Regions from separate parts of the Homo sapiens genome. Here region 2 is linked to region 1. The links come from fine-mapping of genetic effects on gene expression. A gene starts in region 1. The other region holds a variant in brackets. All regions are shown on one strand. Distances are from middle to middle.

Region 1 (5,367 bases):
TGAAGACCCAAGAAGAGCTGGCATTTCAGTCCAAGCCCAAAGGCAGGAAAAGACCGAGGTCCCAGCTGCAGCTGTCACAGGAGGAGGCCCTCTCACTCAGCCTTTGGATCTATGTAGGCCCCCAACTGATTGGACGAGGCCCACCACCCTGGGGAGGGCCACCCTTCACATGCTAATCTCACCTGGAAACACCCACAGCACACCCAGAACGATGCTTGGCTAAATGTCTAGGCACCCAAGGCCCACTCAGGTTGACACATGAAATTCGCTATCACAGTGCTCTTGGCCCTGACCCTGAGACCATCGCACATAGCGTCAGAGGCTGTAGAGTGGGCCCTGCAGAGGCCAGGAAGCAGATGCCCTGGTGTTAGATGCAGTCAGGGTGTTCAGATGAGGATGACAGTGGACTCGACCTGGGATGCTGACAGGAGCCAGGGTGGCCTGGGGGCTGGCCGCTGGCCTGTCCTTCACAGGGGGTGCAGTCTCCTGCACCCCATGGCTGTCCCATCCCTGCCCCGGGTCTCCCACCCCCTCCTCTGCCACGTGGCTGCCACTGCCCGGCCTTCCACAACTGCCTTTCAGCCTCACCCCATCTGCAGACTCCTCATTTGCAGCACCGGGGTTCACCTGCATCTGGCCTCATCAGCAGGTGCAGTCTTATCTGCGTATAAACCAGCCCACCCCATGCAGCCAGCTTGGGATGAGAGGACGGTCATGGGGTCCCCGTGGCCCTTGGAGGGAGGCCTTTGGAAGAGGCAGGTCCTTTGAATTTGGTCTGGGGTCAAGGCTGCCTGCAGCTCCCTCCCCAGCTCCGTAGTGGGGGCTGTATCCATGCATCAGAAGAAGCTGCTGCCTTTTCCGGGGGAAGCTGAGGGTGTGGATCGGAAGAAGCCGCTGCCTTTTCCAGGGGAAGCTGAGGGTGTGGCTCTGGGATGAGGATGAGGCTCCATCCTTCACTGTTACAGGGACCAGCTTGGGAAGCTGACGCACCTTTTTGTCAAAACCAATTCCAAGTGGAAAGAAACTATAGGCAGGTGTGCATGTGTACACACACCTACACAGACGTGCACACACAGGATGCCAGAAAGAAGAATCAAAAGGACAGGCCTCCCTTCTTCCCCAAGCCCAGCTGCAATGTCCTGTTCCCCTTGGTGGGGCCAGTCCAGGGGCTAGGCAGCCTCTACGTGGGGCTGCCATGAGGCCCTTCCAGCCCCTGAAACTCCCCTGCCCCACCCCACACCAGCTTATCCATAATGGGCCTGAGACCAGAAAACCAAAGGTGTGGGCTGCCGAGCTGCCCGCCTTAACGCGGACCAGACATCATTACTCCAGTCTCCATTAGCAGTGAACGCAGAGGTGACGTTCACCTTCTCACTGAGCCATGAGTGCATCTGCCTTGGCCATCTCGGAAGCTAGCAGATCGCAGAAGGAAAGCAACATGTGAGTGGCGCGGGTGGTCCTCATGGGCCCCAGCAGCATTTGTCATTGATGGAACTGATGACCGAGACCAGGATGGGGGCGCTGGCTGCCTCCACCAAGCATGCGTCTGGCTGTCCACATTGCTGGACTCGGCTGCTGCGGCTAAGATGCTTTCATGTCCCACGTTGGGCTGGTTTTCGTGGCAAACGTTAGCCCTGAAATGTAAGTCCTGCACCGCACGTTCAGCAAGGACTCCCTCAGGTCCGGGCCAAGCCTTGACATACATGCTGGGCACCCACTTCTCCAGGCAGAGTTCTCATCCCTCTGGCTCACCAGCTCAGAACGGCACGCTCAGTAAATGCCAGTGCTTAGGACGTATCCATGTGAGGTCTTGGTACAATCCTGGAAACTTCCTTTGGGAAATGCATGAATGTGGGACCCTCCTCATCGCCCTGAGAGTCCAGAGTGTTGCCTGCCCAGCGTCACTCCACAACCCATCTGTCCCCTGGATGGCAGGAGCCAGGCCAGACGCCCCATCATAGCCAGCTTTTATGTTTGCTCCTGTTGTCCTTTAGCCCTGAGTCATGGAAGGCCCACCCTCCCCTTTCCAATCTAGACACCGCTGTTTTAATGGGGAAACGGCCTCCCAGAGAAGATTTCCAGCTTCAGAAGAGAACCCGGAGCTGAAACTCTTGGGCATGATGAAGATGGAATGGGTACTGTCACACACATGCTGCTTGCGTGAGATTCAGATAAGGGAGGCTGGCCCGAAGCCAGGTCGCTGCTGGATCTCAGAAAGACGTCAGAACGAGGCCCCAACGGAAGCCCCTGGAGGTGCACAGCTGGTGAGCTGAGTGGTGCCATGTAATTCTCATCGTCTGCGGCCGTCTGATGGGCATCTGTCGGAAGCCACATGGCTGATATTTAAAAGAGGATTTTAAATTTGCTGATTTAAATGTGCATAATAGGTAACTTTCGGCTGAGCTTTACATATTTATGTCAGAGCTTTTAATTCAGGTAAAACAGCCTTCAGCTTGGAGCTGTTTGGACACCTACAACTACCTGTTCTTTCTCAGTTGTGGCTTTCATTTTCAAGAAGGAAGTCCTTCTGTTTCTCTGTGGCCATTGCTGGTCACGAAACTTAGCAATCTGGCTTCCTCTCAAAGCTATGCAGACGGGATCCTCCCCCTTCCCCCTTACCTGCTTTGGCCCCAGCGTCTGGTCCTGAGGCCAGGGCTGAACAAACTGCCTGTATGAGGCAAGCCCAGTGCCCGGGCGTTGAGCGGGTGTTTCACGGCAGCCAGCGTCTTGGTTCGCAATGGTTTACGTGGGCTTGCCCACCATTGAGCATCCCAGGGACCCCATCAGATCCTTTGCAGAAGTGCTGCCGAATCCGACCCACTCCCCCTGCCCCCGCCTCCCCCACCCTGCCCCGCCCCACACCCCCCACCCCCGCTCGGCCCCCCTCCCCGTGCCAGCACGTGCAGCTAGGCGGAACCTCTGAGCACTCTCCCGCCTGCGTCAGGCTGTTCCTTGGCCCTGTTGAGGCTCCTTCCCTTCATGTTCTGGCCCAGCCCGGAAATGAGGTCAAGTTTCTGCTATTTATGTGTGTGCGTGTGCACGTGTTTGTGTGTGTGGGTGGACCTTGACCTCCAGGCAGTCCTCAGGGTAGTTCTTGGCTCTGTGTTCCTGCACTAAGAAAAACAATGCGAGGGAAACACACCCACAGGCTGCCTGGGGAGTCTGCGTGGCTCTGAGCCTGGCCTGTCCTCCTCCGGGCCTCTGAGGTTGCTTTCTGTTTCGGCGGCCGGCGGCCGGTGGAGCCCTTGCGCCTCCTCGTCAGTCCCGCCCCGGGGCTCTTGCTCCTCCGGCTTTTCCGCTGACTCCTGGCATTCGAGTTCTTGTGTTACACATGCTCCTGGGACGTCATCCTTGTGACAGCTCGCTTCAGTAGAAAGCCTGTGGCTCGTGGGTGGCCGTGGGTGGCTCTCTGCCCCTTGGGGAGGCGTGGAGCATTGCTCTTACAATATGAATGTCTCTCCTTCCACGCACACTCCCTTTCTGACGCAGCAGGTCCCAAACCAGCCTGGCCTGCCAGCTCGTGGATAGGTGTTGGCATTGTAAATAAACCCCCGGGTGTGGCCGCGGGCACCCAGGGAGCAGGCCCCAGGCATGAATGCTGTGGAATCTCTGCTGTCCGAGGCCTCCAAATACGGCCTCAAACAGCCTCCCGGCAGTGTCCAAGGTCAACAGCGGCTGCACGTGAGTGCCACACGAGCGTGCACGGCTCTTTCAGTAGGTGTCAGAAGGCAGCTGTGACGCAGACGCTTGGCTCTGGGGCCAGACTGCGGGGGCTGCATCCTCATTGCCACCGGCGGGCTGTGTGGCCTCGAGCAAATGACTGACCCCCCTGGGCCTTCTTCCCCTACTGTGAGGCCTGGGACGGTGCCTGGTACACAGCTGGTGCTCAGTGTGCACAGCGGGTGTTAGCACCCTGCCACCCAGCGGGATTCTTCACAGCAGCTGCCCGCCTTCGTCCCAAGGAGCCTGGGGCTGAGGCATCCATTCGCTGAGAGGGCGAGACCTCCGATTCCACAGAGGAGCCCTGTGGGGACCGCGCCTCGGCAGAGGACGTGGCGGGAGGACCCAGAGCCCAGCTTTGGGGGCTCAATCCTGAGATCCCTGTGGCCTTGGGGAAGGGGTGCTGGTACCGCCAGATCTCTCCAGACGTAAAACAAGCCTTGCCTGGACCTGGGGGAGATCCCATGGCCTGCTCCCGGCCTGACCATGCTGGGCCCGGTTTATCTGCCTTCACAGATGAAGTTGCCCCTTTATTAAAAAACAAAACAAAACAAAAAAAGCCAGCAATTTGTCATCCCCAAATGCTGTAGTGTCTGTCAGCATAGGCCTGTCCCGGGGCTGGTTCTCACTGAGGCCCCTGTGTCCCCTCGCAGCCCCATGGCGGATCACCGGCTGCGCCTCCGCTCCCACCCGCCACGCTGACCTTAGAGTTAGTGTGTCTGTTAAGCTCTAACTCTGCCTCAACCCCAAGGTCATCTCTCTGGGCCCTCCTCAGGCCTCTGTCATCTCCCAAATTCGGGGGCATATGTGACACCTGTTTGCCTCCGTGGGGGCTGCTGTAAGAAATGACCACACACCAAAGGGCTTAAAAAATAGTTTATTCCCAGCCAAACACTGCATGTTCTCACTCATAGGTGGAAATTGAACAATGAGAACGCTTGGACACAGGGCAGGGAACATCACACCCCGGGGCCTGCCATGGGGTGGGGGGAGGGGGGAGGGATAGCATTAGGAGATAAACCTAATGTAAATGATGAGTTAATGGGTGCAGCACACCAACATGGCACATGTATACATATGTAACAAACCTGCATGTTGTGCACATGTACCCTAGAACTTAAAGTATAATAATAAAAAAAAATAGTTTATTCCCACCAGCTCCGGAGGCCAGGAACCCAAAGTCCACACAGGCTGTGCTCCCCCTGGGGCTCTGAGGAGGGTCCTTCCTGCCCCCAGTGGCTCCCGGGGCTCCAGGTGGTCCTGAGAGCGCCACGCCCGTCTCTGTCTCTGTCTGCAGGTGGCCTTCTCTGTGTCATCTTCTCCTCTAAAAATGCACCTGTCACCGGGTTTAGGGCCCACCCTAATCCAGGATGATCTCTTCTCAGATCACTTGTCACATCTGCAAAGACGCTTTTTCCAAATAAGGTCATGCGCTCAGGTCCCAGGTGAACGTGACTGCCCGGGGAACACGGGGGGCACCGGTCCGCCCACCCCAGCCCCAGCGCAGGCCCAGTGAGCAGACTCTGTGAGGAGCTGCCAGGAGGATCCTGGGGTATCACCCAGCCCAGGTCCCCACGGGACTGCCTGCTGTCCCTGCATCTCCGTGCATCTCTGCGCGTCGCCGGCTGTGGCTGGAAGGAGACCCCA
Region 2 (5,367 bases), 34 kb before region 1:
TACACTGTGGGATCTGCCATGCACTATGGCCCCGTGAAGGAGCAGCCTCAGCTGTGCTCAACAACCTGGATGCATCTCGCAACCTAACGTCTCGTGAGACAGCCTGGCACGCACGACGCGAACTGAGTGACTCTGCCCAGCGGAAGCACAGAACAGGCCAAACTGGCAAACGGCGTGGCACGTCCTCAAAAATCAAAAGTAGAATCACCTTGGGATTCAGCAGTGCCGCTTCTGGAAACCGGGTATGTGGCCGAAGACCTGAAAGCTGGCTCTGCACTTGTACACCTGTGTTCCCAGTAGCCTTAGTCACAGTAGCCCAAAGGTAGAAGCCACCAAGCGCCCCTCGGTGGATGAACAAAATGTGGTCTATTCACACAACGGAATATTACTCAGCCTTAAAAAAGAAGGGACTGCTAACACCGGCTACGAACTGCACGGCCCCGGAGGACACTGTGCTGAGTGAAATAAGCAGACACAGAAAGACAGGTCCTGCGTGCCTCCACTCGTACGAGGTTCCTAGAGTGGCCACACGCGTAGAGACAGAAAGTAGAGTGGGGGTAGGAGTGGCAGGGAGTTGCTGTTTCATGGGGACAGAGCCTCCGTTTGGGATGATGAAAGTTCAGATGGTGGGTGGTGGTAGCGGTTGCATGTACGTGTTTCTGTGTGTTGTTGTCCATGTACATGTTTTGGTGTGTCGTTGTCTGTGTACATGTTGTTTCTGTGTGTTGTTGTCTGTGTACATGTTTCTGCATGTTGTTGTCTGTGTACATGTTGTTTCTGTGTGTTGTTGTCTGTGTACATGTTCCTGCATGTTGTTGTCTGTGTAGGCCATGAATCTGCATCACGCCAGTGTGTTTATAATGTTCATGCTGCACATGTCTGTCAAATGAGCCAACGTGGTGCGTGTTTTATGATCTTTCACTCGATCACATGTTGAGCACTGTGCGGGCTCAGGTCGCTGTCACATCATGGGGGCTGCAGAGTAGAGACCGACCAGCCGACCCGGCACGTTGCCTGGGGCTGGGCTTGGATCTCTTGGGGATCGTGGTGGGTAAGAGTGAGGAGGGGTCCCCATTCTGAAAGGCATGAACAATGCTTTCATTTGCCCCTTACCCCCAAGATTCCAGTTGGTCAGGGAGTCCCCCTTCTCCTGCCCTCCTGGGTTAGGGGTCCTGGCCTTTGGTGGGTAGGGGGCAAAGTGATGAGTAGAATCTAAACATGCTGTCATGGTTTCAAATGGTGGTAAGGCTGTTCATTCACCTGGGTAACCAGTGCCCCCATCTTTCAGGGTCTGTGGGATTAGAAGCAACTTTTATTCCAGCCTCTTGACTTATTCTTATTTTCTAAACTTCTATAATGAACTTGTGTTGGTTTTTTAAAAGGAAAGAAAATGTATTTCCGGCCAGGCGCGGTGGTGGCTGAAGCCTGTAATCCCAGCACTTTGGGAGGCTGAGGCAGGCAGATCACCCGAGGTCAGGAGTTTGAGACCAGCTTGGCCAACATGGCAAAACTCTGTCTCTACTAAAAATACAAAAATTAGCAGGGCGTGGTGGCACACGTCTGTAATCCCCATGCATTTGGTGGCGATGTGAGGCCCAGTTGGACTTCCTGCATGCAGAACTGATTAGAGGCACCTGGGCCTCCCCTACCCGTGTGCTGGGGGCCTCCTCTGACCTCTGCACCTGGAGCTTGCAGGTAGATGCTGAAGTTGAGCTTCCCTGCACCTTAGTGTTCTGGGATCCCAAATCTATCCACCCCGCTGCTCCACCCTGCTCAGGGTGCCCATCAAGGGCCGTGGGGACTATAGCTCATCAGAGACCTTCCTGTTCCTCCTCAGAGATGCTGGTTTCCGAGGAGTCCCAGGAGGGCTCCCAGCAGGGGCCGACGGACATCCACACAGCAGCAGATTCCAGCTGGGGTCGCTGGGTGCCTGGGCTCAGCAGGGGCGAGGCTGCCCTCTCATGGCCAGGAGAGGCACTGCCTGGGAGGCCAGTGGGAAGGCCCCGGGGACTTCACAGGTCCACACCCGCAGGGAGAGGAGTGGACCCCACGCAGGGATTGGGCTGTTGGGGCCTCTGTGCCTCCCGGAACCCCACGCATTTGGTGGTGACGTGAGGCCCAATTGGACTTCCTGCATGCAGAACTGATTAGAGTTACGAGAAAGACTTTTTAAAAAAAGACCCTGAGATGTCAGCTTTGGCAGCTGTACCTACCGGTGGAAGAACAGGCTCCTTCCCTCAAGCATGACTGAAAACCGTTTAAAAAGAAGTGCTCTGATTCAATGGTTCCCAGTTACACCGAGTTATGGAGACATCGTCCCTGGAGCGGGGCCCGCAAGAGTCTTTCCCTCCCATGGGGCAACGCAGTGGCTGCGGATCCCAGCCAGCCCCGAGGGACACAAGTGTGGCCGTGGTCAGCTGCGGCTTTGCTAGAGGCCCTCCCTGCTCTCATGAGACCCCGAGGGTGTTGGCTTTCTGCCCCCAAGACTGACAAATGGCCAGGTGGGCCTGCAGGTGACCTCCTTCCCTCATGGGCAGCAGGAACCAGGTGGGCCCCCACAGTGCCTGGGGCAGCTTATGCAGCAGTTACAGAGATCTGGATCTGGGTGAGTGTTTCCTTTTATTCCTTCTTATATTTTCAAAAATATAATATGTCTATGCATAGAAAAATGCCCGCAGCATATGCAGAAGTCACCAGCACATACTGGGATGATCCCAGGAGGCAGTGGTCAGTGAGGTCAGTGGGGTCCCCTGCCCCAAGGCCACCTAGGGGCCCAGCCTTGCCTGGGGCCAAGACATCACTGAGCAATGAAGATGTGAGCCTGGGGCACCTGTGACTCTGCGTGTCACTCCAGAGCCCAGCTGAGGCGCTGGAAGGGGCTCCAGGAAAAGCCAATTTGGGCACCCGGAGGGGTGACACCCACAGTGGCCCAGGTCTTCTGCTTTCTTGAAATCCACGAGATTTTGATGAAATAAAAGCCATTGGCGCCTCCTTGGGGTCTCACAGTCTCACGTGACAACCGGGAGAGAAGCCGGAGGTGGGTGGGTCAGGCCATTCCGGGCACACAGCGGGACAGCAGACCCTGAGGACACTTGTCCCCGCCTGGGAGTTCTCCACCCTCCTGTTCTCGGATGTGACTCAGCAATGCCAGGGCTCTGCAGCTCCGGGAAGGCCCCGAATCGGCCTGCCAGGCCCACTGTGAGACACGAGGAGGAAGGGGTGGCGGCTCCTCAGCCGACACTACCCCAGGCAGGCTTCCTGTTTGTGCCCCACTAGGACCTGTCTCCTGCACGGCCAGCCCTGAG[A/G]GCCCCACAGGGTTCGTCTGTTTCTCCCCCAGAGACCAGGAGGCTGGAGGGATCCGTGGGCCCATTTTACAGATGGCATAGGGCAGAGACTCGAGGCCAGGCCTAGGTCTGGCCTCACACCTGACCCCCACCTGCCCCCAGCCAAAGGTCACAACCCCAACCCCCTCCACATCCGTAGGTCATGCCTTGGAAAACTGCCCCACCCATGCAGAAGATGGGAGATTTTGTCTAAGAAAAGAATGATGGCTTTGCAAATATTTCCACTCTGGTTCCCCATGACAGTTCACTGTGAAACCCCGGTGACCCCACATGACCTGCCGTTTCCTGTACAAGGGGGTCCCAGGTCTGAGTAATTTTGAGATCACGAGGTCCCAGGATGTGGCATTTGACACGGGCAGCTAAGGCCAGGAGCAGCCAGCAACCCCAGAGCCCAGCCCCTCCCCGGGGCTCTGAGGGGAGGAATTCTCTCCCCCGGGTAAATGCACCCAGGTGGAGGTGTCAGGTCAGCCACACAGACCGACCTTCCCGCCCAACGCTCCTGACTCACCAGGGCTGGAGGACCACCAGGGACCTCCCTGAAGGCTCCATCCTGTGTGGGCTGACTGTGGGGCCAGAGAAAGAGGAAGCTTCCAGGCTGGGCCCCACTACCCAAGAACCTAAAGCAGCCCCCGGTTCTGCACGGGGAGCAGCGTCTCCTCTTGCCCCCTGGCTGGTGAGCAGAGCTTCCTTCCACAAAGCGGGGGGTCAGTGGAGACAGCCCACTCTATCCCCAAAATGCTGGGCCAGTCGGGGGATGGGCCACTCTGTCTCTGAAATGCCAGACCAGATTGTTCATCTGCAGGGTTTCTTCGGCGCGAGATGAGAGGCCTCTGGTCCCATCCTAGGAACCACGGCCCAGACTGTCCCTGCCTCAGAAGAGTGACATGGACACCCACACACAGTCCCCCCAAACAGAGACACACACGCCGACAAACCTGTGCACGCTCATGCCCACTCACACGCCACACCCCCTCCCCTGCTGGGCACCAGATAATGGAGCTGCGGAGCTGTGTGGCTGCAAGCCGCCCTTTCCGAGCTTCTGCTAGGTGGTGTGTTCAAACCTGCAGGCTTCGAAGAGTTCTGAGCATCTAGAAGAGCAGAGTCCAGTAAAAATGTAGCAAAGCCACGCATGTAAGTTTACCTGTGCTGGCAGCCATACTGACAAAAGGGAAAATAAACAAATGAGATTAATTTTAATACTTTTTTATTTATTTATTTATTTTTTGATACGGAGTTTCGCTCTTGTTGCCCCAGCTGCAGTGTAATGGCACAATCTCGGTTCACTGCAAACTTTAGCTCCCAGGTTCAAGCTATTCTCCTGCCTCAGCCTCCCAAGTAGCTGGGATTACAGGTATGCGCCACCACGCCCAGCTAATTTTGTATTTTTAGTAGAGACAGGGTTTCTCCATGCTGGTCAGGCTGGTCTCGAATTCCCAACCTCAGGTGATCCGCCCGCCTCGGCCTCCCAAAGTGCTGGGATTACAGGCATGAGCCACGGCACCCAGCCAATACTATTTTTATTTAAATCCAATAGAGCCATAATATTATCACTTGGATAATCAATACAAAGAATTATTATTTTGAGGGATGGAGTCTCGCTCTGTCACCCACGCTGGGGCACAGTGGCGCAATCTCGGCTCACTGCAACCTCTGCCTCCCGGGTTCAAGTGATTCTCCTGCCTCAGCCTCCCGAGTAGCTGGGATTGCAGGCGTGTGCCACCCCATGCCCAGCTAATTTTTGTATTTTTAGTAGAGATGGGGTTTCGCCATGTTGGCCAGGCTGGTTTCGAACTCCTGACCTCAGGTGATCCACCTGCCTTGGCCTCCCAGAGTGCTGGAATCACAGGCATGACCCACCATGCCTGGCCTAAAGAATTATTAAAGAGTGATTTTACTCTCCCTTTTTTCTACTAAGTCTTTAAAATCTAGTGTTTGTTTTACACTTATAGACCATCTCAATCAGACACTAAATTTTTATCAGAAATCCTTGATTGTATTTAGATTTAATAAAATGTAGAGTAAA

What was found. PIP is the estimated chance that this variant, and not a neighbour inherited with it, causes the effect.
Region 2: its variant is fine-mapped to the expression of SLCO4A1-AS2 in whole blood (TOPMed, PIP above 0.99).

What each region holds. Positions count from the first base shown.
Region 1 is chr20:62,649,191-62,654,557 of GRCh38, forward strand. SLCO4A1-AS2 (SLCO4A1 antisense RNA 2) reads right to left here and starts at 2,996. Exons shown (of 2, transcript NR_183965.1): 1 at 2,620-2,996; 2 at 1-2,318. All of the region lies in intron 1 of SLCO4A1 (solute carrier organic anion transporter family member 4A1), which reads left to right. RefSeq lists enhancers at 2,108-2,407, 2,418-2,507, 3,288-3,477 and silencers at 2,688-2,867, 2,978-3,107.
Region 2 is chr20:62,615,071-62,620,437 of GRCh38, forward strand. No RefSeq gene overlaps it. Among named protein-coding and RNA genes, the nearest start is that of LINC02970, 14 kb to the left of the region's middle. RefSeq lists enhancers at 1,735-1,884, 3,552-3,601. The variant A/G (reference allele first, on the strand shown) is at 3,306.